2 linked regions of the Homo sapiens genome follow. Each later gene encodes a partner of the first gene's protein in a complex. Each region holds a gene or a part of one and is shown on either strand. Other genes may lie near its edges.

What was found. The genes of interacting proteins can lie anywhere in the genome.
Region 2: MAGOHB (region 1) and CASC3 share a complex: the UniProt entries of both Homo sapiens proteins name them as parts of the mRNA splicing-dependent exon junction complex.

The regions. Positions count from the first base shown.
Region 1 is NC_000012.12:10,611,770-10,615,521, forward strand, and holds the start of MAGOHB (protein mago nashi homolog 2), read right to left. Parts: upstream 1,841-3,752; 5' UTR 1,764-1,840; coding exon 1,670-1,763; intron 1,210-1,669; exon of another isoform or gene 871-1,209; intron 1-870. UniProt on the Homo sapiens protein: Required for pre-mRNA splicing as component of the spliceosome. Plays a redundant role with MAGOH in the exon junction complex and in the nonsense-mediated decay (NMD) pathway.
Region 2 is NC_000017.11:40,157,504-40,161,255, reverse strand, and holds part of CASC3 (protein CASC3), read right to left. Parts: intron 1-3,752. UniProt on the Homo sapiens protein: Required for pre-mRNA splicing as component of the spliceosome. Core component of the splicing-dependent multiprotein exon junction complex (EJC) deposited at splice junctions on mRNAs.

The DNA.
Region 1 (3,752 bases):
AAAAAAGAAAAGAAACGCGTCTTCGGGAGGCTCAATATCACCAATGGAAGTATGTGTAACAGTGTAGTGGCAGATACATTGATTAGAACCACTGTTCTAGCATAAAACTTCCCTGATAATATTCAGGTACTTAATTCATGTGACCTGCTAAAAGTGATAGGGACAAGCTTGATGGTGTTCGCAGGCAGAGGAACTGAAAATAATACTACATAAAGAATAGATGAATTCAGGTAAATTTAGCTGAATTTATGGGGACGGTAAGGTTAAATACAGTGATTAAGGTTTCTAAATAATTGCAGGGCTGGCCCGGTGGCTCATGCTTGTAATCCCAGGACTGTGGGTGGCTGACGCTGGTGGATCCCTTGACCTCAGGGGTTTGAAGCCAGCCTGGGCAACATGGGGAAACCCATCTCTACAAAAAATAACATAACATAACATAACATAACATAACATAACATAACATAACATAACATAACATAATTAGCTGGGTGAGGTGGCGTGGGCCTGTATTCCCAGCACCTCGGCAGGCTGAGGTGAGGGATCACTTGCACTAGGGAGGGGGAGGTTGCAGTGAGCTGAGATCGTGCCACTGCACTCAGATCTGGGTGACAGAGTGAGACCTTGTTTCAAAATAATAATAATAATAATAATTGCAGGACTGTAGTTAACGTGAGTTCTGCCTGAAATGCTTGATACTCTTCTCCTTTCCTAATATACGTTCCTTCTCTAATTTTTTATTCTTGCTCTCACAGAACATTGTCCAAAGCCTGCTTATAGGACTTAATATGCATACTGCTTTATAGTTAAATGTCTGTGCCTCCCACCAAGACAAATCTGCTTTAGTTAAATTTGTCTTACTCATTACTGTACCTTAAAATTTTGTATTTGCTTGTTGTCCAGCACAAAACGTGCATTCAAAAAAACCCAAAAAATATATATCCAAATGAACTTTCTTGTTGCAGGTAGGCAAGATCAATGTAACATTCTCTAAGGATAGCGCTGTCAGAAAACACACTGTTGCACACTACTTGGGTAGCAGTTTCACCTCATCCTCTGCTCATACTGCTCTGGAAGTCTGTTTTTTTCTCTCAAAGGCCAAGTCTCTCATTTCGAGACTCATCTCAAGAGTGCCGTCCTCTAAGAAGATCTTCCTGACTCCCTCCTGTGGAACTTTACCTCTCCCCTCTTGCTTGGTACTCTTCATGCGTCCTATGGTGAACAATTACACGTAAACACCTAAAACATATTATTATTCTCATTTGTTAACACGTTGGGCTCCTCCCCTTCAAAGAAAACACACAGCCTAAATGAAAAAAAGGTACTGGTCACCACAAGATTTTATTCATCCACTGGACCACCCGCTGGTGGGGGTGTTTTCAAAAAAGTGCTAGCATTTTCAATCAGGGCGACGATCTAGAGTCCCTTCTGGTGCACTGTTACAGAATTCTGATTACTGTAGGTTCAACTTTTCAGTTTGTGACAGGATTAGCTTTAATTTATTGCAATTAATTCTCTTTCATTTATAAAACCAACTTATGCCTCCTCTATTCTTAAGCTCCTATTTCCTTCGAGGGAAGCAGTGGCCTCCGCCGCCTGTACCCTCCACACCACCCGGCCTCTCGGTCTCGCTCCCCTTTCCCAGCACCGCGTGCCGTGGGCCTCTTCTCACCGTCCGGCCGAAATTCGAACTCCAGAAACTCGTGCCCAAACTTGCCCTTGTGCCCTACGTAGTAGCGCAGGTAGAAATCGCTAGCCACAGCCATTTTTGTACCCGGGAAGCCCGCCGAAAACGCAGCCAACGTGTCCCCCGGCGCCTTGCAGTGACGTCATCGCGCGGAATAAGTGCGTCACCACAGGCGCTTCTCTTCCTCCTGCAGTGCAGCCCTAGACTAAAGCGTGAAAGCCGAGTATCGCGTGAGAGTCCGGAGGCGCTGAAGGGAGGGTCGCAGCGCCGTGACTTTCGCTTTACTAGGAATGGAGGCACATTGTTTTCAAAATAAAGATTACATTATACTAGCAAAGATTAGAAATGTGAGCATATGATAGTCTTTTTTATGGACTTAGAGCTAAAGGTTTGCAAGTCACTTTTACTTTTCTGGTCTCCCAATCCTTGCGGCGTTTGTGAGGTGGGTGTGGCTCTATGCCCCCTTTAACTGTGAGCTAAATAAAGATAAAGCTTAGAATCGAAATGGCAGACCGGGAATATAAACTATTTTTCTTACTTAATTTCTAACAGGGTGCTTTCCCTTTGGATAGCGATTGGTAGTTACCCGGGACCTCTAAGCCTATAATAATAGAGACAAAGTCAAAGGAATCCAACTCTTAAAACCCTCACACCCCCCACACCTGAAAAACCCTGACAGTCACCGTGCTTTTTTTAACAGCAGAACTTCTAAGGTTCTTAATTCATTCAATAAGGGTTAACTTTTAGTAGCCTGTGAAGTTTTGGCAATTTGACTTACGATACAATAATGGTTTAGCCCATTATTGTTTCTCGCCAGATAGAATTAAATTGGGGGAATGAAAGAATGCTCCAGTGTGGCGTAGTTTTTAAGGTAAGGGAAAGACTTTTACACAAAGTTTCCTTTTCAGATATTATTGATCACCCTTTTGTTATCAACACACAGAGTAATCCTATCTGTCGGTTGACAACCTTCAGTGATTTTTAGTAGAAAGTGGTGGAGAGAAGACCTGGGATTCAATCCCAACACTTAACAGCTAACTAACCTCGGGCAAGTGACTATCTCTAAGCCTGTTTGTTCATCAGCCTAATGCATATACAGCAATCTACATTGCCAAGCTCACAGAATTCTTGAGAGATCTAATGAGATAATATGTAAAATAAGCTTTAAATTTTATAAAACATTAGTTTTAACAAACATTTCCTATGTGACAGTTTGAAACTAGAAATAAGCCATTTGATCTGGTAGTCTAGAAAAGAAAGCAAACACGTAAGGCGAATACCAGCACAAGGGAGCAATTGCTATAATTAAGAATATATGTGCCATCCTGGCCAGCATGGTGAAACCCCGTCTCTATTAAAAATACAAAAAAATTAGCTGGGCGTGGTGGCGCGTGCCTGTAATACCAGATACGCGGGAGGCTGAGGCAGGAGAATTGCTTGAACCCTGGAGGCAGAGGTTTCAGTGAGCTGAGATCGTGCCACTGCATTCCAGCCTGGGCAACAAGAGCGAAACTCTGTCTCAAAAAAAAAAAAAAAAAAAAAAGAAAAAGAAAAGAAAGCCTATATGTGGCCGGGCGCAGTGGCTCATGCCTGTAATCCCAGCACTTTGGGAGGCCAAAGGGGGCAAATCACCCGAGGTCAGGAGTTCAAGACCAGCCTGGCCAACATGGCAAAACCTTGTCTTTACTAAAAATACAAAAATTAGCCAGGTTTGGTGGCACGTGCCTGTAATCCTAGCTACTCAGGAGGCTGAGGCAGGAGAATCGCTTGAACCCGAGAGGCGGAGATCGCGCAGTTGCACTCCAGCCTGGGTGACAAGAGCGAAACTTCGTCTAAAAAAAAAAAAGTGTGTAAAACATGCCGGTAGTACAGCAGAGGAAGCAAGAGCATTCTATTGCAGAGTAGGGAAATTTGAAAAAAGAGTATTGGAAAAGGCTTGTCAACGGAAGTGTTTGAATTGGACCTTGAGAAGTAAGTTCTGTGTATGTTCAGTGGGATGAAAAAGCATTCCAGGCAGAAAATGACCCGAGCAAAGACAGTGGTGTGAAAATTCATGTTTGGGGAACAC
Region 2 (3,752 bases), on another chromosome or scaffold:
CCTGTAATCACATTTTGGGAGGCCAATGCAGGCAGATCACCTGCGGTCAGGAGTGTGAGACCAACCTGGCCAGCATGGCAAAACCCCATCTCTACTAGAAATATAAGAATTAGCCGCACTTGGTGGTAGGCACCTGTAATCCCAGCTGCTCGGGAGGCTGAGGCAGGAAAATCGTTTGAACCAGGGAGGCAGAGCTTGCAGTGAGCAGAGACTGCGCCACTGCACTTCAGCCTGGGCGACAGAGCAAGGCTCTGTCGCAAAAAATAGTAATAATAAAAAAAAGACACTATTTTAAAAATATCACATTAAAAAAAATACACACATACATACATATATATCCACATAGGTATTCCTGGAACATATGCAAGAATTATTAAAAGTGGCAGGCTGGGCGCAGTGGCTTACACCTGTAATCCCAGCACTTTGGGAGGCCGAGGCAGGCGTATCACTTGAGGTCAGGAGTTCGAGACCAGCCTGGCCAACATGGTGAAACTCTGTCTCTACTAAAAATACAAAAATTAGCCGGGAGGCGGAGGTTGCAGTGAGCCAAGTTTGTGCCACTGCACTCCAGCCTGGGTGACAAAAGCAAAACTCCATCTCGAAAAAGCAAAACAAAAAAACAAAAAAACAGCGGCAGCCTCTAATGGGCCCAGAGGATAAGAATGGAAGGGAGACTTACTATACGATACCTAACATATAAGAGGAGCTTAATCTTCCTTGATAATCTCTCTCTCCATGAATTATCTTTTTTTTTTTTTCTGTTTTGAGACAGGGTCTTGCTCTGTTGCCCAGGAGTGCAGTGGCACAATCATGGCTTACTGCAATCTCAATCTCCTGGGCTCAAGTGATCCTCCCACCTCAGCCTCCCAAGTAGCTGCGACTACAGGCACATGCCACCACACCTGGCTGATTTTTTTTTATTTTTAGTAGAGACGAGGTCTCGCTATGTTGCCTAGGCAGTTCTCAAACTGCTGAGCTCAAGCAATCCTCCTCCCTTGGCCTCCCAAAGGGCTGGGATTACAGGCATGAACACTGTACCTGGCCCATGAATTGTCTCTTAAACATGCAGTGCCTAATAACTATACTTTGACGTAAGTTGTGAACTCTCCCATCTCAAAATGGCTTAGAGCAGAAATTCCCAACCTTTTTGATTATGCGGACCCCTTTTTAGGATCTAAAAATTTTCATGGATCCCCATGAGATATTCACTGAGAAAACATACAATGACAAACAACTGCTAGGCTGGATGTAGTGGTTCACGCCTGTAATCCCAACACTCTGGGAGGCCGAGGTAGGTGGATCACTTGAGGTCCGGAGTTTGAGACCAGCCTGGCCAACATGGTGAAACCCTGTCTCTACTAAAAATACAAAAATCAGCCAGACATGGTGGCATGAATTTGTAATCCCAGCTATTTGGGAGGCTGAGGCAAGAGAATTGCTTAAACCCAGGAGGTGGAGGTTGCAGTGAGCCAAGATTGCACCACTGATACTAGTCTGGGCAAAAGAGTGAGACCCTGTCAAAAAAAAAAAAAAAAAAAAAAAAATTCGCCAGGAATGGTGGTGTGCGCCTATAGTCCCAGCAACTTGGGAGGCTGAGGTGTGAGATCATTTCAGCCCAGGAGGTAGAGGTTGCAGTGAGCCATAATTGTGCCACTGCGCTCCAGTCTTAGCAACAGAGAGAGATCCTGTCTCAAAAAAAAAAAAAAAAAAACACACAATGAACTGATGCGTGCGTGCCTGTAGTCCCAGCTACTCAGGAGGCTGAGGCGGGAGAATCACTTTAACCTGGGAGGCAGAGGTTGCAGTGAACCGAGATCGCACCACTGCACTCCAACCTGGACAACAGAGACTGTCTCAAAAACAAACAAAAAACAACAAACTGTTATACATTCAATAACACTTTAAGTTTACATTTTATTAATTTACATATATTCAAAAATAGTAGTACATAAGGGGGGAGATGTATATTTTAGTCTATAGATAATGAGAACTGAATGAGTAGACATGCAACTCTTTTTTGAGACAGGGTCTCACTCTGTCGCCCAGGCTGGAGTGCAGTGGTGTGATCTCAACTGACTATAGCCTTGACTTCCTGGGCTCAAGTAATCCTCCCACCTCAGCCCCCACAAGTAGCTGGGACTACAGATGTACACCACTATGCCCAACTAATTTTTGTATTTTTTGTAGAGACAGAGTTTCACCACATTACCCAGGCTGGTCTGAAACTTCTGAGCTCAAGCGAACCTCCTGCCTCAGCCTCCCAAAGTGCTAGGATTACAGGCATGAGCCACTGCGCCCAACCAGATGTGCAAACTCTTGATAATGACTCCATGATTTCCCAATGCACTTATCCTCAAGCTGGAAAATGGTAGCTTTTTTTAATGCCTATGAGTACTGGTTTTCTGCAGCAGAAAATTCCTGCAGCCAGAACATATCCAGAATCACATAATTACAAAAATTTGACCTAAAAAACCTTAAAGGACAACTTGTACAACCATCACATTTCAGAAATGAAAAAAATTAGTCCAAGTGCTCTCTCTCTCTTTTTACTATCTTCTTCCCTCTTTTACCACATCAAGATTGGGTAACACTGTTCATGACACAGAAAGTGCTGGGTCTACACACAAAGGATCATTAGGCCATTAGAAAGGGCCAGGAAATGGACGTGTGGCTAGTTCTAGGTAGGAAAAGGCAGCAGCTAAGGCTCATGATAAGGGAACTGGCTTTAGAATAGGGTTACTCTCCTCTCCTTGTCCTCCCCAGATTTGGACCTAAGGAGGCAGAGCTATGGCTAGGGAGGCCTACGAGAACACAGAGAAATGGGTTCAAGGAAAGGTGGTCTAGTCTTCATTGGTGGGTTACATCTGAAACCTGGTAGATGTATGTACACTGGTCTCTCACTCACCTACTGGGTCTGATACTTGAACTGAACCAGACTGCCCTGTCACTCAAGACCCAGGCTGGCCCCAATAATCTGGTCAAAGAGGCTCAACATGAGATTCCTGAATTCCTGATTGAGAAACTCTCAAACTCTAAGTTTCTGCCATCTCTTCAAATAGAGCTGAGTCAGCCTGATTGGCCCAGACAAGCCAATTAATCCCTCTTCCTCATTTTTCCCTGCTCAGCATCTGGGTATAGTTGACGCTGGAACAAGGGGTTTGAACTACTCAGGTCCACTTCTACGCAAATTTTTTTTCAATAGAAGTTGCAGCAAGTATGCCTGCCTCTCCTTCCACTGCCTCTGTCACCCAAGGCAGCAAGATCAACCCCTCCTCTTCTGAAGTCTACTCAATGCAAAGATGATGAAGACCTTTATGATGATCCACTTCCACTGAATAGTATGTTTCCTTAATAGTGAATGATTTCTTAATAACATTTTCTTTTCTCTAGCTTCATTGTAAGAGTACAGTACATAATACACATAAAATATAAAATACATATTCACTGACTGTTTATGTTATTGGTATGGCTTCCAGTTGACTTAGTAGTTAAGTTTTGGGTGAGTCAAAAGTTATACTTGGAATTCTTACTGCAACAGGGATAGGTGTCCTTTATATTTTATTTATTATTTATTTATTTTGGAGACAGAGTCTTGCTCTGTCGCCCAGGCTGGAGTGCAATGGCGCGATCTCAGCTCACTGCAACCTCCACCTCCTGGGTTCAAGCAATTCTTATGCCTCAGCCTCCTGAGTAGCAGGGACTACAGGCGTATGCCACCACTCCCAGCTATTTTCGTACTTTTAGTAGAGATA